6 linked regions of the Homo sapiens genome follow. The protein of the gene in region 1 purifies or fractionates together with the protein of each later gene. This does not show direct contact. Each region holds a gene or a part of one and is shown on either strand. Other genes may lie near its edges. The genes, in order: HORMAD2, GAP43, CCNY, MCM9, WASHC3 and TBL1X.

Region 1 (4,838 bases):
GGCAGTAGGGACCAGTGATTGGGAGAGATGATGTTTGCCTGCACTAAAGAAGTAATGGGAATAGAGGACAATGGATGGATTTGAGAGCTATTAAGGAGGTAGGATCAAAAGGAATTAGTGATTAATTAGATGCTAGCATGAGAATGATGGAGTAGTCATGGATGATTCTCTGATTTTTAACTTGGACACCTTGGGTGAGTGAGAACGAAGATTGGGAACAGGCTTAGAGAAGCAGATGATGAATTCCAATTTGGGCAGACTGCACTTGAGTTTTCTTTGGAATACCCATGTGGAGACTTTTAGTCGGCAGTTGGATACACACATGGATCTGAAGTTCAGAAGGAAGATCTAGGCTGTAAACATAAATGTGGGGGTCTTTGCTTATGAATGGTAATTGATTCCTAGAAGTGGATGAGATCACTCAGGGAGGGTGTGGAGAATAAGGAGAAAGACAGCCAAAGACAGAACTTTAGGAGAACATTCAAGTAACAAGCATTTTTAAAGGGAGCGAATAAAGGAATAAGTGATTAAAAAGAGTCATTTAGAAGAAGGGATCCCTTCTAAAGCTTCCCAAATACTGCTACCAAATCAGCTGGCTATCCTATTTGTGCTTAAGGCAAAGCCTACTTTTTGGCTCCCCAAATGGAGAATGTGTTACTAAACCAAAGATGGAAAGTAGGGCAACATCATATACAGAAAGCATATCTTCAGGGCTTTTTTCAGATACATATGTGGATACTCTACTCCTGAGGCTCTATTGGTAAACAGATCATAGTAGCGTCTTGTTAGTCTGCATCAAGAAACACTTAATAATTAAAAAGAAACACTTTAAAAAGCTGTATGTTTAAAATATAATATGAAAAGTATTAGAAGTCATTTGATGATCATCTGATGTTCAGATCAACCAGATAATCTTTCTAGCCTGCCTGATGAGTGGCCTTTTGCTTGGCTTGTTGGCTTTGGCGTCAAGTGTACAAACTCAGCCAGTTGGAATACACCTGAAAAATGTTTCTCAAATGTTCCTTTGTGTGGATAAATTTGTTGGTTTATATAGTGTGTATATGTTATTTGTCTATGTTAAGAAGTGTCCCCTGGCTGATAACATACTTGTTTTTCAGCCCACAAATTTTCTATGAACCATTGAGAGTTCCCAGGCCTCACTATTACCTTGAGATATTGAAGATATTTTGACTTACTGCAATAAAATTACAGTTCTGCAACTTGTAATTAAACTTTGGATTTATTTGAACAATGAAAGAAAAAAGAGAACAAAACTATTAAACCATCAGGTCAACTGGTCAGTTGAGAATTCGTACACTCATCTTCTCTTCTTTCATGTGTACCCAGATTTGATAGAAGTGAGGATAGTTTGGTTTGAATGGAAAGCATGGCCAAGCAACAAGCTAACTTTTACCAGATACTTTTTTCCTACAGTCAAACCATAACAAATTCATCTCCTAGATAACAACTTGGTTTTTGTGCTTTGACTTTTTATGTTGCTATTTCCTTTCCTTTAGAGCAGCCCATTTCAAATTTTTACATGTAAGTAAACGAGTTATTTGAGGGGCTGCTCTATATCTTTTCTCAGAGTTTTGTATAGCTACTGTCTTAGTATAAGCCAAAGGGAATTTGTGGTTCCTGAGATCAGAAATTCAACTGCTTTCTAAAACTGAAGGATGAATTAGTACTTAAGTTAGCCATTTTGATACACAATCTTTGTTCCTAAATGACACTTAAATGTTTTATTTGCACTTCCACTATTTTGTTATAGTAACATATCAATAATAATAACATGCCTCTCCTACGAAGGACAAAAAGGATAATTTTAGAAACTCTACTATATATTCTCACAAGTCTTGCTTTAAATATATATATTATATATTATATTATAGAATATATTATATATAATATAATATAGAATATATATAATAATATATATAATATAATATAGAATATATATAATAATATATATAATATAATATATATATATATATATCTTATTCCATTTTCCTTCCAAAGAAAAAACATAGGACATGGAAAAACCTTTCCTCCCATCTAGTGGCTGGAAAATATATAAATGTCCTCTATCTGTTTTTTGGAATTCCAGGCATTAGGGATTGTTTGGCAGATTATAATATATCTAATTGTTCACCCAGTTAAGCAAAAATAAGTTCTAAAATCTTCACCAAAGCCAAACTCAATGGCAAAATATATATCTATAATGATTCACTAACCAACTTCCCTTTCATCAATAACATACTCCTCAGTAGAAAGGTTATGGTTCTTCTTAATTCATTATTCTGAACACACGATAGAAAACACAAGGCAGTATGTCTCTGCTACCTGAAATTGGGACTTAAATTACATTTGCCTCTAAAGCAGTCAGTGCCCCAGATCTCTCCTAAACCTTAATTGCTTCTTGTTGGCCCCACAACTTAACAACCTTCTCTCAAGAGTTGGATGTGTTGAATTCACTAGAGAGAGCCAAGAAACTGTCTCAGAAACTGGCTGCCTCCAAGGGACCTCAGCTCCTGAAACTTGGAATACCAGACTCTGATACTGGCAGCAGGGCCTCTGTGCAGGGCCAAACCAGCCCACAGGAAAGCAGGTTTGGATCCGTTATGCAGCTTGAGGGATTAATGCTTGGTCTACCTGTCTTATATATGTCTTGTGCAGATGTCAAAATCTCTGCTGAATTGTGCCTCTCTCTGGTGATTCTCACAGATTCAAAGAATGAATTTTGTGTGCAGTCAGCAAAGTTCTGAGTGCTCCAGGAAGAAGAGGAAGGTCAGTGAACCAGTGAAGGTCTTCATCCCTAACAGAAAATGAAAGCTAAATATTCCTTCTACATTTATTTTAAAATAAGTTTATTTTGTAAAAACATGCATAAACTGTCTTAGCAGGAAAGTACATTCCTGTTACCAAAACCTTTTTCTAAATTTTTTGCTCAATTTTTTTTGTCAGTTGCTAAGTGCTAAATTACTGGCCAGGTAGGACGCGAGTCCACTTTGCCATAAGGAAAGCGGGTCAATAGGGCTGCCTCTGGATAGCATTACTTCAAAGCTGGGTTAGAGATGAGGCACCTTTTATATTATATTTGTAAAAGAACCACAGCAGCTATTTTGGAAAGAAGCTGTTGTTCTCAAAGGAAAGAAGGATTTTTTTGCATAATTAAACTCTTCAGCTATTTAGACTACTGTGAAATGTTTTGACTTGTTGTAACCTGTATACTGGAATCCCTCTCTAGCTGTATTAAAAATTCCCACAGAGTTGCATAGGATGTGTGGAGGTGCTTATCCAGGTGTGATTTATGTGTTAACCTCAGTCACGAGGTTGATCAGCTAATTGTGGGACCAAAATGTGCCCTGCCTCAACTCTGGCCCCAGGCCCTGTTCTGTTATCCAATCCGAAACACGGAACATGCTGCAATTCAGGAGTCTGGCTCTCTTCTTAAGACCTATATTAAATATTTCCCAAGAAGCACTTCAGTTTATCAGTCTGTAACCTGCAAATGATGCTATTAGTTCCCTCCTTATTCTGGAAGAATTTGGATAGACTTAATTGATGATTAGTATGAGATGAACAATAGATGACTTAAAGTGTTATTTCTATTATTTATATAACATGAGATTTAGTAACTTATAAAATGAGGTTTAGTAATTTAATTTAAATGGATAGGACCAATAAGTTAAATATTAAGTGTGTGACTTATGGTTAAATAAAATGAAAATACAAGACTTTTTTTTTTGCTCATCTTTTTTCACACAGAAAGGAAAAGTTTCTTTGCTAACATCAGTATCTCTCCAAATGTAAAGTGTAGTGAGAACATCAATAATTGGAGTGCTTGTTAAAATATGGATTACTAGGCCTGCCTCATTTCTACTAAATCAAACTCTCAGGTTCAGGCACTGTGGAAAACTCTCCAGATTCTAACACACACACACACAAAATGGAGAACCAATGACCTCTGACCCAGACTAAAGTGAATCTCTGTAGGAAAATCCCAGGGAGCCTGCCTGTTCAGCACTGCCCCTTGCCAGACTCTCAGCCATTCTTGACTATCTAGGGCAGCCTACCAAACTGGGGTCTTAAATTGGGCTATAGCACTGGGGCCTGCAGGCAAGGAGGAGCATTTCCCCTTCTTTTAGCATATTAAGTGGACTCATGAAAGCCTGCTCTGCCACTGAAAGAAGGAGGGGAAAGGTATTGGACTTATATCCTTGATAGAATTGTAGACTGAGTCACTATAATTTCTTTGAAGAGAATCACATAAAGAGATTAGCTGTCTAGTAGAGGAATTAGGTTTGTGTCTCTCCAGAGAGAAGGTCTAAGAGCAAATCAGTAAAGGCTATAGGAGATCAATTTATAAGGAGGAGCTTTTTTTTTTTTTTTTTTTTTCAACATAATCTCAGCTCACTGCAACATTGACCTCCCAGGCTCAAGTGATCCTCCCACCTCAACCTCCGGACTGGCTGGGACTACAAGCATGTGCCACCATGCCTGGCTAATTTTTGTGTCTTTTGTAGAGATGGGGGTTCGCCATGTTGCCCAGGCTGGTCTCGAACTCCTGACTTCAAGTAATCCAGCCACCTCAGCCTCCCAAAGTGCTAGGATTACAGGCATGAGCCACCACACCCAGCCCAGGAGGAGCTTTTTAACTCTACAATTGTCAGTTGTCAAAATTTTGAGATGGGCTACCTTGTGAGTTAGTGAGCTTGTCTTCACTGCAGGTATTTGAACACAGAGGAGCTTCACAAAAACTCTATAAAGACTCTCAAAGCAAATTAGCACTACTGAGTAATTAGTTAATCTGGATTTCAAAAGGAACTATTTTGCTT
Region 2 (5,808 bases), on another chromosome or scaffold:
AAGGAATTAGTCCCACTCTTTAAGTTTGGCCACATAGTTAATGAAATGGTCTTATCAATGGAGTTATCCTGTTTAAACACCAAAAGGTGCAATTTCTTCTCCATCATCCCCAATCCCCACATTCTCTGCCTCCTCCCTTCATTGCTCTTTAGCCACTAGCAGGCTAGGTAGGGTGTTCCTAATCTGCAACCGGAATGTTTCTGGTAGGAGCCATTTCTCACCCACTCTTTGTCCTCTTTTATCACTTAAAATCACGGAAGGCTGTTCTGAAAGCGGCTGGGCTCCTTGTAACATTAAAAAATTATTAAACTCAGAAACTAATTCTGTTTTTTAATCATAAATATGAAAACTAGGAAGCAAACTGAGAAGAATGAAAGACCAAATCAGCGGATCTGAAGCAGGCCACTCTCAGGAAGACTCCTGAGGAATAATTAAGGCTAATTTTAAATATCACCTCCTGGGTATCATCATCACCATCGTTCCCAGGTACCTGTCTGAGATAGTCCATTTTGAAATAGATATACCTTAAATTATGTTAAAATGTACTAAGCACTTATTGAGCTCAGTGATCCTGAAATATGCCTAACAATAAGCTGCCTAGTTGCCACTTATTAGCTAGGTTTATGTCTAGGAGGTCTAGGAGGGACTATGAAGAATATGAGCTGTTTAATTAGGGGTACTTGTCATCACTAATGAACAACAAGAAATAGTTTGAAAACTTCTTTGAGATATTCACTTGCAAATGTCACCCGAATTTCAGAAAAGTACAGTCTCTGGAGTAAAGCTATTATACACTCAGAGAGACTGTTGTGCTTTGCATGCGTTATATCATTTAGTCCTCAAAACATGTTGTCAAGATTGGCATTATTATCTCCATTTTAAAGATGAGAAAATTAGGTGCAAAGAGCTTCAGTAACACACTCAAACTCATTCAACAATAAATAACTAAAAATTGTGCTATACACACTTTAAGAGTCACATGTTCCTCCCCCAAAATTATGAAAGGCCATAGAAGGAATTCAAGAAGTAGGCTTCATGACTTATCGTTTCTTCTCATCTCAGATGAATTCACTTTAATCTCTCATGCCCAAATTGTAAAATATCATTTTGATCACCGTCAATATTACACAGACCTGTTTGAATGTGCTCAGCTTTTTCAGTAAAATTAGAAGAAACCACAATTTACAAACAGGTATATGTGCATTAAGGAAAAAACAAAAAACTACCATGTGATTTTAGATATGGATGCCAATTCTTAAACATTGTTTATTATTTCTGAGCTCAAGTGCTTAGAATGTTTAAAATGCAATATATTTATGTGGATTTTTTTCCAGGATATTGGAACATATATAAAATATGCTTGTGCATATCTAAGCTTTGTATTTATTTCAGGTTATATGTATACTGAGAAGAATATATAAACAGTGTATGATATTTACATGTTATTTCATTTTTTGAGGGAAATTAACCTCCACAATTATTAACTATGCATAAAATGTAATGGCAGATATGACTTATATTGTATAGGACTGACTACAATTCCTCTTTAGAAATAGCTGTTCTTTGCTTTTATAATACTAGGAAAAGAGGAAAAGAGTTCTTAAAGAAATACAAGGATTCCTCAAGCCCCTCTTCCCTAAAACATGCTCTATCATATCTCCTGGATTGACTGGAATATCCTTCTCTGCCCCCACCCCATCACCCTCTCAATGCAGTGGAAAAGTCGGTGGGTAATTGGGTCCAGATTGGAGGTGTTTAAATATTCATGAGGCTGGCAGGGGACTGGGAGGGGGCGACTGTCTAGAATGGGGGTAGGGGCTGGGGGAAGTGATTAGTCACTGAAGGCTAGAGAACAATTCCGAGAAAGAGACGGAGAGAGAGGGAAGAAAAAGACAGATAGATAGATATTGGGGGGAAGGAGAAAAAAGGAGAAGAGAGGGAAGAGAGGACAGCGGAGAGAGAGCACCAGAGAGAGAGGGAGAGAGAGAGAGAGCGCTAGAGAGAGGGAGCGAGCATGTGCGATGAGCAATAGCTGTGGACCTTACAGTTGCTGCTAACTGCCCTGGTGTGTGTGAGGGAGAGAGAGGGAGGGAGGGAGAGAGAGCGCGCTAGCGCGAGAGAGCGAGTGAGCAAGCGAGCAGAAAAGAGGTGGAGAGGGGGGGAATAAGAAAGAGAGAGAAGGAAAGGAGAGAAGGCAGGAAGAAGGCAAGGGACGAGACAACCATGCTGTGCTGTATGAGAAGAACCAAACAGGTAGAGCTAAAGATTTTTTACTTCTTGCTGTTGTGAAATAACCCGAGTACAGTATTTCCCCGTAAAGGCAAACAATTTTTTTACTGCTTCTGCTCTGGCCGTGGTGCTCGCGCTTCCTTAGCATATGGTAACTGATGGTTGCATCCCAGCTTTTATTCTTTTCTGTCTTTCATGCTCTGGTTTTGGAATGCTGCTACTAATTAGGGTGAGGGTAGAAAAAACATGCCTGTTTGGCTAGAAATAATTTTTTTTTTTCTTATTAGTGAATGCTCAGCATTTGAGGTCTCTGGTCTTGAGGGTGTGGACGTAGAAAGGGGTGTGGGGGAGATGATGTGGGCTCTACCTACAAGATGGGGAGGCATTTCTTTATATTATTTGCAAAAAAGCAGGGTTGAGGAAATAATATTCAGAACTGAGTATTGCCTCTCTGTCATACAATTTTCTCACATGTGCTGCGGAAGATGCCTTATTTCGTGCATGCATGAGCTTCGAAGGGGCGCAGGTATTTATGGAAAAACGTGCAGGTCTTATTTATTTAGTATTTATTTTTCAATGAATGAATGAAACTGTGATTTGATAGATTTTTTTTTTTTTTAAGAGAAGCTAAGACAACTGGGGCTGGGGGAGAAATTGGCCATGCAGAAGGAGAAAATCCCCTTCCTAAGATCAGCAGCCGATTGTGCACCAGCTGGTCGGAGGAGAGGGTGGACCACGCCCCTAGGAGCTCCGATGGGATGGGAAAGACAGCCGGGTATTACCTGTTGGAAACCAGGTCTTTTCTCTTATCCCCTTCCCTTGCTTCTTTCCTGGGATTGTCAGTGACCAGAGACAGGCTAACATCCTGGATAATAAGTATGGTGACTCATTTTCATCAGGAAGAGGGACACATCCAAGATTAGCAAGAATCAGAGCCCCTCCTTCCCTCCCCCACTGCCCAGGTTTTACAGCCATTTCCAATTGCTCGCTTATTTCTTGAAAGACATTTTAGAAACTTGATTGGGGTGAGAGTGGGAAGGAATGACGAGTGTGGTATTCCGCAGCAACCGACCATGCCATGGCAGTCTCCAAAAGAAGCTTTCAAACATTTGTTGGAATGCATTTGAGTGATTTTGGCAAAGGTTAAAGAGAAAAATGGGTGTGGGATACGGGTGAGTGTGTGCGTATGCTTGACTGTGGTGGGGGTGGGGGTGTGGTGGGGGCAATCTTGGTCAAAGAAGCCCTTCGCAGACTGATTGCCTTAGGGGTGGGGTGCAAGAGATGGAATTTGGGTATAATTTCCAGTGCAGGTATTGGAAATTGGGCAATTTGTAATACACTCCCTGAATCCGAAGGGGGTGGAAGAGAGTGGAGAAGAAACAGCCTGCCAGCTTAGCACATTTAGCCAGCGCCCTGGAAGGAAGGGTGGGGAGTGAGGATGAAGGAGAAGGAGCAGGAAGAGGATGGGAGACTGAAGCAGAATGTCAGAGCAGTGGGAGTAGAGATTTGGCATAAATAAATAAATAAATAAATAAGCAGACATCCTGGATTGTGTGGGGCTATTTGGGGGAAAAAGTCGGATAGTGGGGGATTGAGTTGGGGGCGGTATTTGCAGCATCTCCTGAAACTGCCCTATGGTTACAGAGATTGATGCTTCCATTGGCTCATTTTATCAAACCAGGGCATTTTCTCTCTGTGTCCTCCTTCATTTTAATATATAAATGTAATAAATACAGGTGTCTGGGTTAAGAACACTGTCAAAGAAAAGTCCTGAGGTTATTTCACTGGTGAGCTGGGGAAATAACATTTAGGAAGGTGGAGCACTAAGTAAGCCAAAGCCATCCACTTAAAAAGCTTTAATTTTGGAAAGAAAAATATTCAGGTTCATAATTTGTTCCCACCCTATGTGTACATATGCAAGTATACATACATCTCCTTTAATAAAGGAAATCATGTATGATTTTTAGAAAAGGAATTAGGGCTAAAGGAATTCCCTTCCCAAAATGAAGACAGCTGCCTTCCCTGGGGCTCTATCTCACCAACAGCCCCAAGCATTCACTCTGATGTGCAAAGTGATGAAGCTGAAATTGTGTTTAGAGTTGTAGAAATTCGCATGTAAATGTATACAGCATCCACATACTTCATATGCTACAGTTGCATGTGTAAGTGGTTTCCACATGCCTCTCTGTGTTTTAGCATCATTTATATTCAAGAGAAAATTAAAGGTATAGAAATTGTCCTACTTTGCTCATGCATTTTATAAATGTGTACTTCTGTGTGAAATGGTCATGTCTCTTATAAACCACTGTTGTGTATCATTCACATTAGCCAGTATTTAGGATACCATTCAATCAGACTAAAGGAAATGGTGTATTCAGGGCGTGGGCTCACACTACACTGACTGGCATTTATGTAGCATGAGTACTTAAGTCTCACGCAGGTTGCCTGCTTGTGGATGAAATTCTGTATCATTTATGACAAAATCCAGTGGTGCCCATCCTTCTGCTGGCATCTATTCATCATCGTAGTACTTAACAGGGAATAAAACAAGGGCAAAAACCTGCAAAGGTCTAAGCTCTGCCACACCCATAAAATCCAGCAGAAACGTGGGAGGGGGGCTGAAGGGCTTGCACTTCCTTCCTCTTCCACTTGAGCGGCATAAAGAAGCAACCTTGGATTTCTAAGTTGGAATACATTGCCAGTGGGTGAGAAGAAAGCATAAATGATCTCTATTAGCCATTAGTTATCACTATAGATTATTATAGCAGGAAGAAGAGAATGAGAGTGGGGTAGAGATGAGAATATGGTAAAGGAGTGGGCAAAGGAGGAATAAAATAAAATAATCCCTAATATTGTATTGCCTTATGATTTTCAAATATCTTGGGGCTTACTTTAAATAGCTTAATTGCCATGTGTATTGCAGATGATTAAAAACTTGGCAAGGTGTGATTTATGTCTACAAAGCAAGAAAACTATGAGGTGTTTCTTTTGTTGAAAAATAATGACTTTAGTTTGTAATTGAAGTGTAAAGAATTTCATGCAAGCAAGTAGTCCCTCTACTCCCCAGCCCCCCATCCATGCCAATATCTGCTTTTTTCCTCATGCAACAAATAAATCTTATCTCTGAGAGTGTGATCTGTGGTTTAAAATTCCGACCTCTCTGCCTTTCCTTGCAGTGTTGGGAAGGTGTGGAAGGATGCTGCCTTGCTGCTTGGTGCAGGCGATTCTTCCTAGTGATAAATTGGATTCCTCCCAAATCTCTCTGAGCCACACCCAGTGTCACTCAGGGACTTAGTGAATTAATTAAGCTGAGCCATTTTACTTAATATAATTGAAGCTTCTCGTTCTTTTTTTTTTTTTTAATAGTGATTTTCACCACAGGTTTCCAAATTTAAACAGAAAAAATATTTGAAGGGCATTTTCTTTCTTTTTTCTTTCTTTTTTTTTTTTTTTTGCCAAATTATCTGGACTTGCAGAGAACCTTAGAAAATTCATGGTGAGTCTAGAAAGTGTTCATTTCTGGTGACTCTATAATTCCTTCTAACCCATGCCAGGGCGCATACACAATGAGCCCTGATC
Region 3 (5,226 bases), on another chromosome or scaffold:
ATTTCTCAGTACTTACTTAGACTATGATGGATCCTGAAGTGAATGTAGCCAGAGCTGATAATAATGAGTTGGCTTTGTGAAGCACCTACTCTGACTGCTCTGGTCAGTTCTTTACATGCTTTAATAACAACTCCTTAAGGTGATACTGGTATCTTCATTTTACAGATAAAGAAATTGAGGCACAGAGAGATTAATTTGACTAAGATGATACAACTAGTAAATTGGGGAATTGGGAAATGAATTCAATCTACCACTCAGACCATTAATCTATTGCTCTCCTAGATTAATGATGATAAATTGCACCAAAAGTAAGTGAGTGGAAGTAGAGAAAGTCCAGCTGAAAAATTGAGCATTTGTAAACAAGCAAGATTAATGTACAGATTGCCACCTGCATGTCTCTAGGTATGAGGAGGGATGCCCGTCTGCATGCCTTCTCTTCGCTCTCATACTAGGCTGGCCTTTGGTGCTGGTGATAGACCTGTTAGCTTGATAAAGGTGGTGTGGTGCTGTTCAGTTGGGACACACAGCTTTTAGAGGAAGTAAGGAAACAGTCTACTTCTCAGAGGATTCTCCAGAATCCCCTTTCCTGAGTCGTCTTAGCTCGAGCTCTTAATTCTCATTTATATTTTTAGACTCTGTTCTCATTTTAAAAATTACTTCAGGCGAATGTTTCTCTAGGGTGCTGGATGCTTTCAGGGGCTCTCATTCTCCAGGAAAATTGAATGGGGCTCAACTGCTGAGGAATGGGGTCCTGGGCCAGGTTCTGTCTCTCCTGTAGCATCTTGAATGCCTCATAGAGATTCAAGATTTGGTTTATTTGAAAACTCAGTAAATAAGGTGAGGGAATCCGCTGATTCTTTGTAGCCCAGGTTGGTATCAGAGTGTAACCACGTGCACCCAGAAGCTGCTTTTTGCTCACAGACTACCTGCTGGGTTGAACCTTTCTTTCGCTTGGGTTGATCTGTGTCTGTGCTGCCTGTGTTCATGCAGGCAAATGTAAATGAGCACAGGTGTGAATGCCCAGAGCTTTAAAAATAATTGCTGTGGCTGAGCGCAGTGGCTTACGCCTGTAATCCTAGCACTTTGGGAGGCCGAGGCAGGCGGATCACGAGGTCTGGAGATTGAGACCATCCTGGCCAACATGCTGAAACTCCGTCTCTACTAAAAATACAAAAATCAGCTGGGCCTGGTGGCGCGTGCTTATAATCCCAGCTACAAGGGATATTGAGGCAGCCTCTACAAGGAGGCTGAGGCAGGAGAATCGCTTGAACCCGGGAGGTGGAGGTTGCAGTGAGCCGAGATTGCACCAGTGCACTCCAGCCTGGTGACAGAGCAAGACTCCGTCTCAAAAAATAATAATAATAATTGCTGTTGTGCAAATGTAGGAATGAAAATTGAGCTGTTTTGTTAAGCTCTTTCTCTTTTATTTTTACACAGATGGTAAATTTCTAAAGCAGAAATTGTAATGTTTGTCATGATAAGTGTGTGTTAGGGACAGGTCTGTAGCCTTCTGAAGTTCTGAAGCCTGACACTGAAGCACAGACTATGGAAATTACATGCAGCTAGCCAAAAGCTGTCATTTCCAAGTTTGGTTGTTTAAAGAAAATTTTTTAGGCAAAACTTAAATTTCATATAACAGATGAAAGTAGAGCTGTCACTCGTGAGGTACGGAGGGTCCCCGCAGAGCCCAGCGGCCCACGGTACTGTGTTCACAGTGAAAGCTACCTCTTTAAGTGGTTCTGTGCACGTACCAGCCTGGTAAGAGCTAACTGTTCACATATAGGTTATTGACTAAAGACTTTTTATCTGTCACCTGTTGTTTTTCAGTATAAAATTGTGAAACTTAAATGAAGTAGTGACGTTGCGTGTTGTGAATAATCAGACTGATCTCTAGGATACATTGATATTCATTCTTACCCTGGCGCTTCTTTCCTATCACCCACAGTATGTTGATGGCTTAAGCAGATCCAACAACCTTTGCTTGGAAATAAGATGTCAAATTTAAGTCATTTGCCTAGATTCGATTCATTTGAAAACTCAAAAAATTAAAATTAAATTTTTACTTAATTTAGCTAAGTGTGGTTTATAACCTTTATTTCCTTGGGCTATTTTAATCATAAGTGATTAAGTATTGCACCCAAGAAAAATCATTATTCATGAATAACCATTTAGCACTGACTTGTGTTTCTTGAAATAGTTGAATTGGCTGGGTGCAGTGGCTCACACCTGTAATCCCAGAACTTTGGGAGGACAAAGCAGGTGGATCTCCTGAGGTCAGGAGTTCGAGACCAGCCTGGCTAACATGGTGAAACCTTGTCTCTACTAAAAATACAAAAAAAAAAAATTAGCCGGGTGTGGTGTTGTGTGCCTGTAATCCCAGCTAATTGGAAGGCTGAAGCAGGAGAATCACTTGAACCCAGGAGGTGGAGGTTGCAGTGAGCTGAGATGGCGCCACTGCACTCCAGCCTGGGCAACAGAGTGAGACTCCGTATCCCAAAAAAAAAAAAAAAGTCATTGAATTAAAATGTATTTTTGTTTTATTTGAATGACATTCTTGCAGAAAGTAAGTTTCATTTTCTATTATTTTCCCTACCAGGGACCCAGATGGAAGGATGCTCTTAGATATTTTTGATGAAAATCTTCACCCTCTTTCGGTAATCTCCTCCGTGTGTTTCATGAGATGATTTAATTATTTCTCTTTTGCTCCAATCGGGAGATCAGTCATCTGAAAATATTTTCTTCCCCAGAAATCCGAAGTGCCACCAGATTATGACAAACACAACCCAGAGCAGAAGCAGATTTACCGGTTCGTTCGGACACTGTTCAGTGCTGCTCAGCTGACGGCTGAATGTGCCATCGTCACCCTGGTGAGTGCCCTCAGGATGGCCACACCCATCCCCAGCCGAGGTGGTCCAGGGCCCGTTCCTGTTACTCAGCGGAGTGAGGTTGGAGCAGGGAATCCTCACCAGGTTACCCTGTGGACACCGTGGCATAAGCTTCAGTGTTGTCGTTCTCCTGGGAGAATAGAGGATAGATATCCCGGAAGAGATTGTGAAGATTGTTCTGTAGCCCCCACCTAAAGTCATTTGTGAAATCACGTTCAAATCCAGGAAATGCTGAAATTAAAAATGCAGGTAAGTAAAACAGTAGGGCTAAGAGAGTGGTTATATGGCCAAGGTACTCCCTGTATACGTCTAGGTTTCCTGGTGTTGATTCCCTACAAAGATTGTAATAGTATTAGTAAGATATGATGAATACATTCATCTTATATGAACACTTGTCTAGGAAGGAGTGTGTATATTCCTAGCTTCTGTTTTGTGACTTTTGAGTAAATGTGTCTGCAGGATATTCAGAGACAGTATGGAGGTAACGTATATTTTAAGACTCAAGAAAAAATAAAAATTTGTTTTTACAGCTGGGCTCCATGGCTCACGTCAGTAATTTCAGCACTTTGGGAGGTCAAGGTGGGAGGATCACTTGAGCCCAGGAGTTTGAGACCAGTCTGGACAACATAGTGAAACCCCGACTCTACAAAATTTAAAAGTCAGCTGGCCATGGTGGCACGTACCTGTGGTCCCAGCTACTTGGAAGGCTGAGGTGAAAGGATCACTTAAGCCCAGGAGGTCAGGCTGCAGTGAGCTATGATCATGCCACTGCACTCCAGCCCGAGGGGCAGAGCGAGACCCTGTCTCAAAAGAAAAAGTATTCTTACTTGGATTCTTAAAATGTTATGCACTATTTAGGTCAAATCTCACTTGGGAAATAGATTTAACAATGGAACCCTTTTTGTCACTGACCTTTTACATTGTGTATAACTTAGATGAGAAATTAGCTTTGCCTGTGCATGAGCTATCCTGGAGATCAGAATACCATTTCCTGTAGTTTCTGAGAAGAGACAATTGTCTAGTAGAAGCTTTACAGGCGACCGAAGGACTCTTTGTGTCTCCGCCACATGAAGAGCTGTGTGCTCCGAGGCTAACTGAACAGAAACCCTGTTGGCTTGTTGCTCATTCATTCATCTGTTCATCTGTTTGTTCATTCCTTCTCATTGAACTCACAGCCTGAAGGATAATAGAACAGACAATCAAGTAATCATTAGATGATTAGGAATGATTGCAGGTTCCTATGTCATAATTGAGTAATGTATGTACTGCCCAGCTTTGTTCCTCAAAGGGATTTTAAGTTCTAACCAAAACACGCAACAGGGCAACAGGGTTGAGATTTTTATGTAGGGAAATTCAGTGAAGGGAAAAGAAGATTAAGAAAAGCAGATGAAACCATAGATGAAATTAGTACTGGAATACATGCCATGAGGAAGGATTTATTTTGAAGTTGCTGTAGATGGAAAGTGGCGGGGATTTTTTCTACCTTTAATTCCTAAGAAAAATATGGCCTGGCTGTGAAAGATAGTGCCTTCCTGGTCGGGATTATTATTTAGCTTGAAGGATGTTCAGGGCCAGCATTTAAACCCCACAGCTCACCCAGTGTCTGCCTTGAGAGAACATCTAACAGGCATCCCTTGCTGCCCTCTGCATCACTCACCAAAGGTGACAGGGCTGATGAGTTCATTTCTTTGGAGTAGTGTAGGACTGGCACTTTTCTTGTGAATAATTGTAACTATTGAAATCTTCATTTGTCCTATGAAATAGACTGGTGTTGACCAGGATACCAGTTTGTATGGGGGTCTTGTTGGTTGCAGCTGGAGAGGAGCAGCCTTGGAGGCCTTCGTGGTAGGTGCAGCCCTGCAGCCCATCCTCTGGTCTCTGCTGTCTGCTGAGGCTCATCAGCGCAGCTGCATGCTTGTGGGTAGAGGGCACAGAGACGTGTGCCTTGAGCAAGACTCTTGTAGGATTGTTCTTCCCTCCTCGTGTTCCCTAGAGTTAGAAACAGTCATTCAGGACAAGTCTGGCCTGGAGTTGACAGAGATGCATTCATTAAGCCCTTATTTTCACTGGGCATGTGTTTGGCATCTTGGCATGCTGCTCAGCAGGCAATGGAGGAGGAAGAGCAGTTAGCCCTGGCCGTGCTTCCCACACGGAGTAGGACTGCAGCCTGCTGTGGACAGAGAGCCTACAGGCCCTTCAAACACCCAAACCTACTTCACCCAAAGCAAATATTTCACAGCTTAATCAACTTCCTTTTAAAAGAGTAACAATAACTTAGATCACTAAGTGTATTTTTTAGCCTCCTAGAATATGCTGAAAGCTCTCCTATGGATACTGCCAC
Region 4 (5,226 bases), on another chromosome or scaffold:
ATTATTCCTCATGTAATAAATGGTGTTGGGAAAACTGGCTAGCCATATGCAGAAAACTGATACTGGACCCCTTCCTTACACCTTATACAAAAATTAAGATGGATTAAAGGCTTAAACGTAAGACCTAAAACCATAAAAACCCTAGAAGAAAACCTAGGTGATAGCATTCAGGACATAGGGATGGGCAAAGACTTCATGACTAAAACACCAAAAGCAATGGCAACAAAAGCCAGAATTGACAAATGGGATTTGATTAAACTAAAGAGCTTCTGCACAGCAAAAGAAACTATCATCAGAGTGAACAGGCAACCTACAGAATGTGAGAAAATTTTTGCAATCTGTCCATCTGCCAAAGGTCTAATATCCAGAATCTACAAAGAACTTAAACAAATTTATAAGAAAAAAAAAAACCACATCAAAAAGTGGGTGAAGGATATGAACAGGCACTTTTGGAATGAAGACATTTATATGGCCAACAAACGTGAAAAAAAGCTCATCATCAGTAGTCATTAGAGAAGTGCAAATCAAAACCACAATTAGGTACTATGTCACACCATTTAGAATGGTGATCATTAAACAGTCAGGAAACAGATGCTGGAGAGGATGTGGAGAAATAGGAACTGTTTTACACTGTTGGTGGGTGTGTAAATTAGTTCAACCATTGTGGAAGACAGTGTGGCGATTTCCTCAAGGATCTATAACCGACATACCATTTGACCCAGTAATCCCATTACTGGGTATACACCCAAAGGATTATGAATCATTCTACTATAAAGACACATACACACGTATGTTTATTGCAGCAGTGTTCACAATAGCAAAGACTTGGAAGTAACCCAAATGCCCATCAATGATAGACTGGATAAAGAAAATGTGGCACATATATACCACGGAATACTATGCAGCCATAAAGGATGAATTCGTGTCCTTTGCAGGGACATGAGTGAAGCTGGAAACCGTCATTCTCAGCAAACTAACACAGGAACAGAAAACCAAACACTGCATGTTCTCACTTATAAGTGGGAGTTGAACAATGAGAAAACATGGACACGGGGAGGGGAACATCACACACTGGGTGGGGGGCTAGGGGAGGGATAACATTAGGAGAAATACCTAATGTAGATGATGGGTTGATGGGTGCAGCACACCACCGTTTCACATGTATACCTATGTAACAAACCTGCACATTCTGCACATATATCCCAGAACTTAAGGTATAATAATAATTTTTAAAAAGTATAAGTCACGTTGTACAAGCAATCACCAGGACTCTTTCCGTCTTGCAAACTGAAACTCTATACCTGTTTAAAAAAACTCCCATTTCCTCCTCCTCCCAGCCCCTAGCAACCACCATTCTACTTTCCGTTTCTATGGATTTGACTACTCTAGGTATTTCACAGGTAAGTGGAATCATACAGTATTGATCTTTCGTAACTGGCTTATTTCACTTAGCATGATATAGTTAAGGTTCTTCCATGTTGTAGTATGTGTTTGCATTTTCTTTCTTTTTAAGACTGAACAATTTTCCATTGTGTGTATAGACCGCGTTTTCCTTATCCATTCCTTTATCTATGTACGCCTGGATTTTCTCCGCCTCTCAGCTGTTGTGTGTGTAGTGCTGCTGAGAACATGGGTGTGGGCTTCATTACTTAACAGTGGCTACCTTACCACCATCTAAAGCAGATTTCATGCTCAATCTAAGTGACTTTATACAACTGAGAAAATTTACTGGGCCTTTGTTCAAGCTTTTTTCAATTTTGCTTCTTACTGTCTGGGGTCTAGAAGCAATTTTTTTTCCCTAACACTTCAAAACCTCAAATTTCTGAGATGTCTTCATTGCTTTTCATTTCTCTTTGAAGATTGGTCAGTTTTTTCCTGTGCTCACCACGTGCCTGCAATGCTTTGCCGAAGGAAGTTTTTCTTGTTCGTGTCAGTCTGATGTGGATTGAGGGTGGTGTGCTCTGCTCCGACAATGATTCCGGGCCCAAGCTCCTTCTCTCATGTGGCTCTCTGACTCCAGGGCTTTATCCTCTTCTGTACTCCACTAGTAAAGAGAGAGAAAAAGATTGCACAGGAAGGCTTTTAGGGGCCAGACCTAAAAGTGGTTTATGTTCTTCTATCTTTACTTCATTGTCCAGACTTGGTATCATAGCCCTACTTCACTGTAATGGGAATAGGAAATACAATCTTGCTCTATTCCCAGGATGGAAAGAAAACAAGGTTAGGTGAACATATAGCACCTGGTGCCACAGGCTGGAGATAAATTTGGAAGTACCAGCATATAGGTGGTGATCAAAGCCATAAGTAAAGATGAGGATCATCCCGTAAAGGGAGTAATGGGAGACCTTCACAAAAACAAGGGCACTTTCTTAAGGGTCTTTACTGGTAAAAATAACTTTACAATGTTAGGTTACACAAGTTATTAGTAGAACAGTTACTACTGTGTTTGTAGGACGTTTAAATGTGTGCATTAAATAAATGTAAAAGTAGTTTTTTCAGAAATTGGAATGTCTTTACTTCTTGAAGTTTAATACAAAAGAAATATGTATCAGCATCCTTTTATGACAAAGCCTGTAAATGTAAAATAATGCTGAAGTTCAGAAATACTGAACTAAGTAAAGATTTATTTTTATTTGTCGTTTAAATTATGTACATTTATTAAGCATTTACTATGTACCAGGCAGTGTGAGGATTATAACAATAAATCACAATCTCTCAAGGAAGACCACATTTAGTAGGACAAAAATAGGCTGGGCAAGGTGGCTCACACTTGTAATCCCAGCCCTTTGGGAGGCCAAGGCGGGAGGATTCTTGGGGCCAGGAGTTCAAGACCAGCCTGGGCAACATAGCAAGATTCCATCTCCACAAAAAATTTTCTGAAAATCAGCTGGGCATGGTGATGTACACCTGTAATGCTAGCTACTTGATAGGCAGAGACAGAAGGATCACTTGAGCCCAGGAGTTTGAGGTTGTAGTGAGCTGTAATTGCTCCACTGCACTACAGCCTGGGGAACAGAGTGAGACCATGTCTTTTAAAAAAAATAAGTAAGGCAAATAAGTTGATGCCGAAAATCCCAGGCAGAATCGGCAGTCTGGAAGTAAAAGCGCATTGATTTTGGAGCCCAGCAGATCTAGGTTTGAATCTCAGCTCTGCTCCTCTCAGTGTAACCTTGGGGAAGTTAATATTCCTGAACTTCTAGTTTCCTTATTTCTAAGTTTGTGATAATAGCACCTACCCTTCAGGTTGCTGTGATTAGGGATGATCTTTGTAAACCTAATGCAGTGCTTGCTTGATATTAAAAATGTAGTTATTTTTATTAATATTGTTGAAGGTAGAGTTCATATGGGATAGAAAAATGAGTTACCTTACAGTCTATGAATTCATTCATTTAGTATTTAGTGAGCCACTACTACGCACTGTATACTTAGGATTAGATTGTATGTATGTATTTGTGTTTGTTTTCTAAAGCCCCATTTAGTTTTTTTAAAAAATGTTTGTATCACAGGTCTGTACCCACCAGGTTTACATATGGTCTTCCCCACTTTCAAATGCCCAGAGACCACCCTGTCTGTCCTGGCACTGTCTTCATCCTCCCTCTTTGCTACAGGGATCTGCCTGACTTATCTCTCATAATCTCCTCTTCCTCTGCCCACTCCCGTATTTTCCTTGCTCCTATTTCTGCTGACTTCACCTCAGACAGCCTTTTTTCTTTGCATACAAATTTTTGTTAGTTCTCCCCACCCCCAACTTTTTTTTTTTTTTTTTTTTTGAGATGGTCTCTTGCTTTGTGAGTGCAATGGCACAAGCTCGGCTCACTGCAGCCTCCACCGCCCAGGCTCAAGTGATTCTCCCAACTCAGCCTCCCAAGCAGCTGGAACCACAGGTGTGTACCACCGTGCCGGCTATTTTTTGTATTTTTAGTAGGGATGGGGTTTCACCATGTTGACTAGGCTGGTTTCAAACTCCTGAGCTCTGGCGATCCACCAGCATGATTCTTAAGCTTAAGCTTTTCTAATGGAAAAATTAATTCCCCCAGTTACCTTAGGCATAATTTACCACCTTCTTTCTGTGTTCATTTTTCTTCTCATACATTGGAAAACTCTCCAATTATATCCCCTATAGATCTCCAGGTGTCCCCACCGAAGTTTCTCCCTGCTGATACTAATGCTGATACTGACACCAGCACTCCTTGCACACTTACGATCTGGCAGGCACTCTGCTCCACCTCTTCTTTCCCCAGCAGTTCTGTTGTAAACTAATTGGCAGCAGAGATCAGATATGTACCTTTTTGGATTCTCAGTACAGCTTTTTGCACAAAGGAAATGGTCTATAAATATTGGTTGGTCAGAGAGAGGATGAATGAACAATTCATTTGACCTAGCATTAAAAATAATTTTATAAAAATTATGTCATATGCAATTGTATTTTGTTTCATTGCCAGTGTTGTGGACATTTTTAAATAAGAAATACAAATAGTCCGTCTTCAGTGTGGGTTAAATGTGCTTTTGTGGGTTACTTAGGAACCGCTTATTACATTGTTCTATGGCAAATTATATTCCAAGTTCTAAACAACTGTCTTTACAAAAGCCATTTTGACACATAAATTATAAGATGTGGACTGTCCAGAATTTTTCCTTGTCACTAATTTTTTAAAAGGGAATTTAGTTTTTGGTAAAAATGCCTTGTTTATCTTTCTCTTATTTATTTAATCAGTGTCTTCTTGTGCCACTTGCCACAAATAAAGATTCTCAAACATTTTCAGCCTCAGGGAATGAAGTAGCTGCTAGCTAGAAATAGATCAGGGATTAACAAATGTAATACATGTTGCTGATGTCATAGGGCTGTGACTTGGGAGGCAGACATCCCACTATAACTAAAAATGGGCATCAAGTGCACAGCATACAAATTTACAGATTCAAATTTTTACATTTGTTATTGCCAATGAATATGTCACATTATTTTGAGAACTAGCCCATCATTAATTAGTTTAAAAACAATATCTAAGTTATGTCACATCCATCCCTATCCTGCCACGCTCCATTTAGGACTACCTTGTCCCTCTACTGGACCATTGTACTAGAGCCCCTACCCTGCATCCTGTCCACAGTCCTTTCCTGTCCAACCCACTCACCAACCCAGTCCTCATCAGACTTCCCTTCACAATGGCTCCTCAAAAACTCAATGCCAAATCAATCATATTTTCTGATTTCCTTTCCCTCCCTCTT
Region 5 (5,226 bases), on another chromosome or scaffold:
GGGCAACATGGTGAGACGCCGTCTCTACAAACACCATGGACATATCATCCAGGCAGAAAATCAATAATGAAACACTGGCCCTAACAGACATATGTAGAAAATTCAATAAAACAGCAACAGAATACACATTCTTCTCAAGGGCACACAAAACATTCTCCAGGTTATATGATATGCCACAAAACAAATTTTAATACATTTAAGGAGACTGAAATCGTATCAAGTATCTTTTCTGACCATATTGGTTTGAAACCAGAAATCAATAATAGAAGGAATCTTGAAAAAAATCATAAATAACTGGAAATTAAATAACATGCTCCTAAACAACCAATAGGTCAAGTAAATTAAAAACGAAATTAAAAGTATTTTGAGACAAATGAAAATGGACATACAACACATCAATACTTATGGGAGGTGGCAAAAGCAGTTTTAAGAGGAAAGGAAGCTTCGGCAGTAAAGACCTATAACAAAAAAGATGAAAGATCCAAAGTGTAACATCCTAGTGTTACAACTGAAGGAATAGAAGAACAAATAAAACCCAAAGTTAGTAGAAGGAAAAAAATAATAATGATCGGAACAGAAAAAAATGAAAGAGACTAGAAAAACAATAGAAAAGATCAATGAAACTAAGAGCTGGATTTTTGAAAAGAAAAACAAAATCCACAAACTTTTAGCTAGATTAAGAAAAGGAGAAGATTCAAATAATATCAGAAACGAAAGAGATGTTACAACTGATACCACAGAAATACAAAGAATTGGCTTTTTCAGCCACAGAGCTCAATGCAGCTCAGTGACGTTATAAATGCTAATGAACTTAAGGTCTGATGTGTGTTTGAAAGAATCAGCGAAGCTTTTCTTTTTTCTTTTGTTTTGTTTTTTTGAGATGGAGTCTTGCTCTGTCACCCAGGCTGGAGTGCAATGGCGCAATCTTGGCTCACTGCAACCTCCACCTCCCAGGTTCAAGTGATTCTCCTGCCTCAGCCTCCCAAGTAGGTGGGAATACAGGTGTGCACCACCACGCCCAGTTAATTTTTGTATTTTTAGTAGAGACAGCATTCCACCATGTTGGCCAGGCTGGTCTCGAACTCTTAGCCTCAGGTGATCTGCCCACCTGGGCCCAAAGTGCTGGGATTACAGGTGTGGGCCACCGTGCCCCACCCATCAAAGCTTTTCAAGTAGATAAGAAGTATCTGAATATGGGACCACTGATATATTCAGAACAGAAGTTTTTGCTTTCTTTGTTTCTTTCATGGTGGTAGCTGGGGTGAATTTTTAGATGGTCCCAATTTTCTACAGGAATGTTTAGATGAGAATTTTTTGTTTCTGTCCTGTGGTTGAGTTGGTGCCACAGAGAATTTCCATAAAATTCAATTCCATTATTTAAAATAGTTTTTTTTAACTAGTTTTTCTATCAACCAGCCCCAGTCTGAAACTTGACACAGTGTTAACACAAAAGAGCAAGTACTTAATCTTCGTTCACATACTCTACCTACAAAGACATGACCTACAGTAGTTCTTCAAGCAGGTCAGTTTTAGGAGACGTTAATTCTATCTAACTAGACTAGCTATTTCACAACTATGTAAGACAACTTTATAAACTTTGCTTTAACTTACAAAGGTCATTTAATAATCCCATTGTTTTGACGATTCTAAAGATTGTAAGTTTATTTTTACAGTCTACTCTTAAATATTACTGTTGAGGCATATATATGGCAATGGTGGACTTAATTCTGCCTAAGATATCTGAGCATCTGTAGTAAAATATGAAGCTACCTTCATTTGGTTGATATGCTAAAGACATTTTTAAAAGTATCTCATTTTTTAAAAACTTGGTTTGTGTGTTTTGTATGCTCAGGAATTTTTCCACAGTACTGGAGACCATTGCAGTGATTAAATTTGGCCCTTTTGACAGAAAACAGAACAATGCATTCCTAGGGATAAAAAAGGGGTGACTGCAAAGGAGCATGAGGGAATTTTTGGAGTGATTCTATATCTTGTTCTACAACTATTCTACATCTTGATTATGGTATGATTATGCATTTGTCCAATCTCATACTTAATGGTAAATTTTACTGCATATAAGTTCATACTCCAATAAACATGACTTTACAATTAAAACAAAAGAAATATGAAGGCTCATAAGAGATTGCTATGACCAATTATATGCCAACAGATTGGATAACCTAGAATGGATAAGTTCCTAGACACATACAACCTATCAAGACTAAATCATAAAGAAATAGGTAATCTGAACAGACCAATAATAAGTAGAGAGATCAAATCAGTAGTTAAGTCTCCCACTAAACAAAACCCCCAGGACTTGATGCCTTCACTACTGAATTCTACCAAACATTTAAAGAAGAACTAATACAAATCCTTCTCAAACTCTTCCAAAATACTGAAGAGGAGGGGAAACTTTCGAACTCAATTTAGGAGGCCAGCATTATCCTGATTCCAAAGCCAGACAAATCCACTACAAGAAAAGAAAATCAAAGGTCAATATCCCCAGTGAACATAGAAGCAAAAATCCTCTACAAAATACTGGCAAGCTGAATACAACAGCGCATTAAAAAGGTCATTCACCAGGATCAAGTCAGATTTATCCCTGGGATACAAGGATGGTTCAACATATGCAAATCAGTAAAGGTGATACATCACATTAACAGAATGAAAGACAAAAACCGTATGATCATCTCAATAGATGGAACAAAGGCATTTGACAAAATTCAACATCCTTTGATGATAAAAACTCTCAACAAATTAGGTATAGAAAGAATCTAGCTCAACACAATGAAGGCCATTTATGACAAGCCCACAGCTAGCATCATACGCAATGGTGAAAACTGAAAGTTTTTCCTCTAAGATGAGGGACAAGACAAGGATATTCACTCTTACCCCTTCTATTCAACATAGTACTAGAAGTCCTAGCTATAGTAATTAGACAAGAGGGAAAAATAAAAGGCATTGAAATTGGAAAAAAGGAAATGAAATTGTTTCTGTTCGCAGATGGCATGCTCTTATATATTGAAAATCTTATAAAAAATTCCACCAAAAAATTGTTAGAACTAACAAACTACTTTGGTAAAGCTGCAGGATATAAAATCAACATACAAAAATCAGTAGCATTTCTATACACTAAAAGTAAACTATCTGAAAAAAAAGAAAAAAAATCTCATTTACAATAGCTACAAAAAAAATACATAGGGGTAAATTTAACCAGTGAGGTGAAAGATCTGTACACTGAAAACTATAACACATTGATGAAAAAAATTGAAGAAGACACAAATAAATGGAAAGATAACGTGTGTTCATGGATTGGAAACATGAATGTTGTTACAAGGTTGACACCACTCAAAGCAATCTACAGACTCAATGCAATCCCTATCAATTTTCCAATAATATTTTCACAGTAATAGAAAAAAAAATCCTAAAATTCATACTGAACCACAAAAGACCCTGAACAGGCAATGCAATATTAAGCCAAAAAAACAAAGCCAGAGAGATCACACTCTCTGATTTGAAAATCTACCACAAAGCTACAGTAATCAAAACAGCCATAGACCAAGGAAACAGAATAAAGAGCCCAGAAATAAATCCATGCATTTAAAGTCAATTGATTTTTGAGAAAGATGTTAAGAACACAGAAAAGACAGTTACAGAAACATACTTTTCACAGATGTTAAGAATAACAGTCTCAATAAATCATTTTGGGACAACTGGATATCCACATGCAGAATGAAATTAGACCCTCATCCTTTACCATATAAAAAAATTTAACACGAAAAGGATTCAAGATTTAAATGTAAGACCTGAAACTGTAAAACTACTAGAAGAAAACATAAGGGGAAAGTTGCACGACATTGGTCTGGGCAATGACTTTTTTTGGATATAAACCCCAAAGCACTGGTAACAAAACCAAAAATAAATAAATGGGATTACATCACACTAAGAAGTTTGTAGAATCTGGATTTTAAATTATTTTTTAAAAATTATTTTAAAAGACTACGAAGCTTTTGCACAGCCAACGAAACCATCAATAGAGTGAAGAGAACCTATGGAATGGGAGACTATATTTGGAAACCATATATGTGATGAAGGGAACCTCTGTACACTGTTGGTGGGAATGTAAATTAGTACAGCTATTATAGAAAATAGTACAGAGGTTCCACAAAAAATTAAAAATAGAACTACTATATGATCCAGCAATCCCACTTCTGGGTATATATCCAAAGGATGTAAAATTAGTACATTCAAGAGACATCTGTACTTGAAAGTTCACTGCAACATTATTCACAATAGCCAAGATACGGAATCAAAAGTGTCCATCAATGGATGAATGGATTAAAAAAAGTGGTATATATACACAATGGAATACTATTTAGCCTTAAAAAAGAATGAAATCCTGTCATTTGTGACAACATAAATGAACTGGAAGACATTGTGTTAAATGAAATAAGCCAGTCAAACAGAGACAGATACTGAATGATCTCACTTATATATGGAGGATAAAAAAGTACAACTCATAGAAATATTGAGTAGAATGGTGGTTAGCAGGGGCTTGGGGTTAAGAGGATTGGGGAGATGCGGTTAAAGGATACAAAATTTCAGTTAGGCAGGAGGAATAAGTTCAAGAGATCTCCTACATGTCATGGTGACTGCTGTTAATAACAATATATTGTATTGAAAATTGCTAAGAGAGGCGATTTTAAGTGTGCTCACCACAAAAAAAAGTAAGTACGTGAGGCATTGCTTATGTTAAATAGCTTGGTTTGGCCATTCCACAATGTATTCATATATCAAAACATCATGTTGTACATCATAAAAATACAATTTTTACCTGTCAATTTAAATAAAGAAATAAGATTTTTGAAAAAGGACAAAAGGCAATAGACTACCTTTAAACTTCATGAGGTTTTGATGAACAAACTTTTCTCTAGAGTTCAAAGAAGTACTAGAATACAGATACAGCCAGAACAGCTGCAGAGAAGTTGAGACAGGAACAGGAGGAGGTTAAAGAGTGACTCATGAGGCTTTGATCATAATCTATCAATAAATGAGATGACTATTGTTTTCTTTGATCTAGTTGTCAGTAAACAGCTCTCATTCAAGAACCATTAGGCACTACAAAGGTGAAGGGCTATCCCTGTTTCAGGACAGCTCAAACAAGTTGCTTTCATAGGTGTGTTTACTTGTTGCTTTGTTCTTTATTTTTCAGCTTGATGATAAGGG
Region 6 (5,226 bases), on another chromosome or scaffold:
GTCCTGTCTCAAATGTGCTGCACATTTTTGTGGAAAGCCACCAAGCTGGGTAACTAATGCAAACAACAAAAGTTGTTCATCACTGGATCACCGGCCCTTAAGGCGATTCCAGCCCTTAGTAGAACACACACCTGTAGGGCAAATATGGAGATTTGTGGTGTAGTGCTGCCACCCTCGCTCCCCAACTCTCAGGCATTTTGCCCCTTTACCTCAGAGAACTTCTCTCTGTCAGTGGTTTTAAAGAGGAAACAGTTTGCAAAAATAACTTTATTGTAGACATACTTAGAAGTGAATGTTTCAATTTCTGGAGTTTTCCCATCAATTATATCAGTACCACTGGTTCTGTACAACATCATCTTAGTTAGAAGATTTTTTTTCACCTTTTAAGGTGACGAACAGAGGCGGGAAAATGGTCCCTGCAGAGGGAGGCCATCTCCAGCAGGTCCCGAGGGTCAGGAATTCAGATTATCCGATCTACTCCTGCTGGATAGGAGCACACCTCCGCTAGAACCTGGGTCCGGCCCCCTCCCAGTTTTCTGCAGGGCGTCCAGATTCCGGTGCTCTGCCCCGCAGCAGTGCCCTGTGGGCCTCCTGGCTTAGCTGATCAGCACAGCTTCTCTGCCCAGCGAGGCAGGACCATCCTCCCACTGCTTTCCTGATGCCTTGGATTTGCTTTTTTTCCTCCCTTAGGAAAAGCAAAAAAACCTAATATGCTACATCCGAGAAGTTGTTAATCTTTCACTACCACATGCATTGAAAAATCAGTTCCACCCAGGAAGCAACACTAAAGGCATATTGTAAACACTTTTTTTTTTTTAGTTGGAAAGATAAACTTTTTTCCCCCATAACTATTTTTAGTTAGCCGGAGACTGGACTCGAGTTTTTACCTCCGGTCTTGCCCCCTCCACTCCCGCCCTCACTTTCTGTGGGGCTCGACCACATGGACCATGCTGGCCAGACTGGCAAACATGAAACCCACCAGAACCAAAAGAAAAGCTGGATATGGGAAGGGGCCGAAGAAGTCCACATGTTTCTAAAGGGCAAAGAGCCTAGGCTGAGGAGAGACGTTTCAGATCTCCAGGGGAGAAAGACAGCCGTTAAGGAGTCCGCCGGGCTGCTGCCTGCCTGGCCAGCGGGAGCCTGACTTCAGATGCCTGCGCCTCCCAAGCTGGCCCCCTCCCACACAGCCATCGCCATCCAGTATTTAGGGAGAATCCACCGCATGCCTGAAGGTTGCAGAAGTGAATTGGAAACCGTTACAAATGGAATTGGAACAAATTTAAAGTTAAGATGGAAGAGAGAATATGTTGAGTTTTCAGAGGAAGTCGGGTACTGCTTCCTTTTCTTGTCTAGGTTTGTTCTTGTCCGATGGGATCAGAGAGATTTGAGATGGGGCATGATAGGCGGCGGGTTCAGGAGAAAGGGAAGCTTTAGAAATGAAGGTAGAAAAGATGCTTGCTTATTGGAACAGTATTTTCAACGTTGAGCTCTGGAATGTTGCAGCCAACTAATGGTTCTCATTTGGGACAGTTTTGTCCCCCACTTTTGAAGGGAGCATTTGCCAATGTCTGGAGACATTTCCCTTCCTGCAACTGTTAAATTAGCAAACAGGTTGAGCCAGCTGGGTGTGGACCTGCATTTTCCTCGTGGAGGCCCTCTTCCAAGTGTCAGTAGGAAAAGGGCTCCCAGAGTGTGGTCCTGCTGCGGGACCTTGGCCCCCACGTCCAAGTGAGCCCCAGAGGTGCCCCAAGCCCTGCCTGGTCATGGGGAATCTGGGCTCCCGCTGAACTTGGGCGCTGGGGACAGCTATGAGGGAAACCTGGTTTGCAGCTAGCTTGCCGTGCACTGACTGGAGCTTTGGGCAAATCAGTGAACTTCTCTAACATTAATTTTCTCATTGAGAGAGGAGGTGGGTAGGAGTATATATATATATATGTAATTATATATATAGGGGTCGGGTAGAGGGAGAGAGAGATTTCCCAGGCTCCTTGTATTAAAGGAGATAGAGTTATTATATTTCTCATTTAGTTTTTATTTATTTGTTTATTTTGAGACAGTGCAATTATTATAGCTAGCTGCAGCCTCAACCTTCTGGGCTTAAGCAATTCTCCTGCCTCAGCCTCCTAAGTAGCTGGGAGTACCAAATGCGCACTACCATACCTGGCAATTTTTTTATTTTTATTTTTAGTAGACACAGGCTCTCACTGTGTTGCCCAGGCTGCTCTCAAACTCCTGGGCTCCAGTGATCCTTCCTCCTTGACCTCCCCAAGTGTTGAGATTACAGGTGTGAGCCACTTTACTCAGTCGACCGACATAGAATTATTATAATGCTTGGAGCCTAACATGCCTTTTTTGTTTGTTTGTTTGTTTTTTCTGAGACGAAGTCTCTCTCACAGCCCAGGCTGGAGTGCAGTGGTGCGATCTCGGCTCACTCTGCCTCCCGGGTTCAAGCGATTCTCCTGCCTCGGCCTCCTGAGTAGCTGGGATTACAGGCATGCTCCACCACACCCGGCTGATTTTTGTATTTTTAGTAGAGGTGGGGTTTCACCATGTTGGCCAGGCTGGGCTCGAACTTCTGACCTCAGGCGACCCTCCCGCCTCGGCCTCCCAAAGTGCTGGGCTTATGGGCATGAGCCATCGCGCCCGGCTAGCCTAACATGCTTATAGTTTCCTGTTTTCTGAAGTTGGGAATTGGGTCTGGAAAGGTATCACCATCAGTCACGATGGTGTCTAGTAGTTTGCTTTGTTTTTTTCCTTATCTTTTCCCTCTTACATTTTAGGGCTGTATCTATATAATTTTATTATTTAAATTACCATATGGTAAGTTTGTCTCTTTGGGTGCATTATGAGTCTTGACACATGCATAGATTGGTGTGACCACCATCATCATCAGGAGAGAGAACAATCTCCTCAGCCCAGAGATGTTCATGGCTCTGTCTCCCACAGTTCCTCCACAGTCACCCCCCCCAGCCCCGAATCTGGGGCACCCAGCCATCTGCTCTGCTCTGGAAGTCTTGGGGATCCCATCTGAATGTAACACATGGTGGAATGCCTTAGGTGAATCCATCCGCTCTTCCAGTACCACCTTTGCCTCCTCTCTCTGATGACACATGAACTTCATGCCTTTGTGTGCTTTGGCCAACCGCTTTTCTTAGAACAGCACATTTTGCACTGTAGATGTTATCACAAGCAAGGAAAAAACAGCTTTGCTCCTTAATGTAAGAAACCACAGTGGAAAAACATCAGGTGTGTTGTTGAGGCTGCTAAAGCTTTGCTCCTTTTTAAAATTTTTTAAAAATTTTTCTGGATACGTAGGTGTATATATTTATGGGGTGCATTAGATATTTTGATATAGTCGTGCAGTGTATAATCACATCATGGAGAATGGGGGTATCCATTCCCTCAAGCACTTATTCTTTGTGTTACAAACAATCCAATTATACTCTTTTAGTTATTTGCTCTTTTTTCTTTTATTTTGAGACGGAGTCTCACTATGTCGCCCAGGGTAGAGTGCGGTGGCGCGATCTCCGCCCGCAAGTTCAAGCGATTCTCCTCCTCAGCCTCCGGAGAAGCTGGGACTAGAGGCATGTGCCACCACACCTGGCTAATTTTTTTGTATTTTTAGTAGAGATGGGTTTCACCATGTTGGTCAAGCTGGTCTCAAACTCCTGACCTCAGGTGATCCACCTGCTTAGCCTCCCAAAGTGCTGGGATTACAGGCGTAAGCCAGCACGCTCGGCCTATTTATTTCCTCTTTGTTCTATGCCAGTTAGTTCTTGATGCCTCATTGTTTCAGATGGGACATTTTCTAATGTCGTGTTTTTGTTTTTGTTTTTTTGAGACAGAATTTCATTGGTGTTTCCCAGGTTGGAGTGCAGTGGCATGATCTCTCCTCACTGCAACCTCCGCTTCCCGGGATCAAGCAATTCTCCTGCCTCAGCCTCCCGAGTAGCTGGGATTACAGGCATGCACCACCATGCCCGGCTAATTTTGTATTTTTAGTAGAGATGGCATTTCACCATGTTGGTCAGGCTGGTCTCGAACTCCTGACTTCAGATGATCCACTCGCCTCGGCCTCCCAAACTACTGGAATTACAGGTGTGAGCAACCATGCCCGACCTCTGATGTCCTTTTAGAGGATGTTACCCTCACCTTTATTGCACAGTCCTACCAAAAGGTACTTCATATGTGAAATGTATCAGAAGGTTATAGTCATGGCTTTAGTTTAAAAACAGGATACATGTTCATTAAGGACCTTTGCCGTTTTCCCAATGGGTTAATCACGTAAATATAAAATAGGCTAAAAATATCAAGTTGTTTTTGCCTTTGTTGTAGAAATAAAAAAATGAATTCCTACATCTGTGTTTCTATGGAGCTGCTAACCTGTGTTTTACTCTGGGCCATATGTCGCTTTCTGTGATCTCATGACGTGGCATGTTTTCTAATATAATCCTTGTCCTGGCATTTTGGTGACTTTTGTCCTGCCTGAGGTGGTCTACCTGGTTGTGTGAAGTCACAGAACCTGTGCATGTCCTACCGTGTAGAGTTAAAGGGCTGGATGAGTGGCCTCAAGCCTTTTCCTCCCTCCCAGGTGTGAAGATTTGGTTTGGAAGATGGACCCTGCTTCAAGGTCTGGGAGGCCATGTTTTTTTCAGACTGGTTAAGGATGACGGTTTTATGTTAACTAAACATTGGGATCAAGTGACAGTTGTTTATGTCCGGTGCCTAGAGTATCAGTTTTCCCATGATTAAAATAAGCGATATTTTGGTAAACATTGATAAGTTAGTTGCGCATTTTAGTTCAGAAACCCACAGCGAGTCAGAAGGCGCTTTGTGCTGCTGGGCGCCTCTGAGTGATTCCGGGGAGTGCGGCAGTTCTCCAGCCCCAGGAGACCCTGTGAAAGAAGCACAAACAATGCTCACGGCAAAACTCACAGTGTTTATTCTTGACCTGGGTGTCTGCCTTGAATTCTTGTCATTTTTCCTATCGTGGTGGATGTAGCCGGAATGCTTTAAAGAAAACATGAGAGTTTTTTCTGCCTGTTTCCCTTGAGCCTGGAACCGATTATGACCCCAGATAGCCTGCACAGGGCTCTTTCCTTTCTGGAACACCTGCCCAGGCTAGAATATGGGAGTAGGGAGGAGGTGAGGCTCTCTCCTGCCCGGTAACCTTCCCGGCCAGCTCTCCAAGACGCTGAAACCTTCCTTCGGGTCTGTTGAAACTGC

What was found.
Region 2: the proteins of HORMAD2 (region 1) and GAP43 purify together in Homo sapiens (affinity purification with mass spectrometry; one large-scale study listed by BioGRID and IntAct). This does not show direct contact.
Region 3: the proteins of HORMAD2 (region 1) and CCNY purify together in Homo sapiens (affinity purification with mass spectrometry; one large-scale study listed by BioGRID and IntAct). This does not show direct contact.
Region 4: the proteins of HORMAD2 (region 1) and MCM9 purify together in Homo sapiens (affinity purification with mass spectrometry; one large-scale study listed by BioGRID and IntAct). This does not show direct contact.
Region 5: the proteins of HORMAD2 (region 1) and WASHC3 purify together in Homo sapiens (affinity purification with mass spectrometry; one large-scale study listed by BioGRID and IntAct). This does not show direct contact.
Region 6: the proteins of HORMAD2 (region 1) and TBL1X purify together in Homo sapiens (affinity purification with mass spectrometry; one large-scale study listed by BioGRID and IntAct). This does not show direct contact.

Annotation. Positions count from the first base shown.
Region 1 is NC_000022.11:30,173,339-30,178,176, forward strand, and holds the end of HORMAD2 (HORMA domain-containing protein 2), read left to right. Parts: intron 1-2,724; coding exon 2,725-2,829; 3' UTR 2,830-3,737; downstream 3,738-4,838.
Region 2 is NC_000003.12:115,621,467-115,627,274, forward strand, and holds the start of GAP43 (neuromodulin), read left to right. Parts: upstream 1-2,043; 5' UTR 2,044-2,223; coding exon 2,224-2,253; intron 2,254-5,808. UniProt on the Homo sapiens protein: This protein is associated with nerve growth. It is a major component of the motile 'growth cones' that form the tips of elongating axons. Plays a role in axonal and dendritic filopodia induction.
Region 3 is NC_000010.11:35,527,377-35,532,602, forward strand, and holds part of CCNY (cyclin-Y), read left to right. Parts: intron 1-2,596; coding exon 2,597-2,654; intron 2,655-2,747; coding exon 2,748-2,867; intron 2,868-5,226. UniProt on the Homo sapiens protein: Positive regulatory subunit of the cyclin-dependent kinases CDK14/PFTK1 and CDK16.
Region 4 is NC_000006.12:118,829,885-118,835,110, reverse strand, and holds part of MCM9 (DNA helicase MCM9), read left to right. Parts: intron 1-5,226. UniProt on the Homo sapiens protein: Component of the MCM8-MCM9 complex, a complex involved in the repair of double-stranded DNA breaks (DBSs) and DNA interstrand cross-links (ICLs) by homologous recombination (HR).
Region 5 is NC_000012.12:102,054,487-102,059,712, forward strand, and holds part of WASHC3 (WASH complex subunit 3), read right to left. Parts: intron 1-5,226. UniProt on the Homo sapiens protein: Acts as a component of the WASH core complex that functions as a nucleation-promoting factor (NPF) at the surface of endosomes, where it recruits and activates the Arp2/3 complex to induce actin polymerization, playing a key role in the fission of tubules that serve as transport intermediates during endosome sorting.
Region 6 is NC_000023.11:9,466,814-9,472,039, forward strand, and holds part of TBL1X (F-box-like/WD repeat-containing protein TBL1X), read left to right. Parts: intron 1-5,226. UniProt on the Homo sapiens protein: F-box-like protein involved in the recruitment of the ubiquitin/19S proteasome complex to nuclear receptor-regulated transcription units. Plays an essential role in transcription activation mediated by nuclear receptors.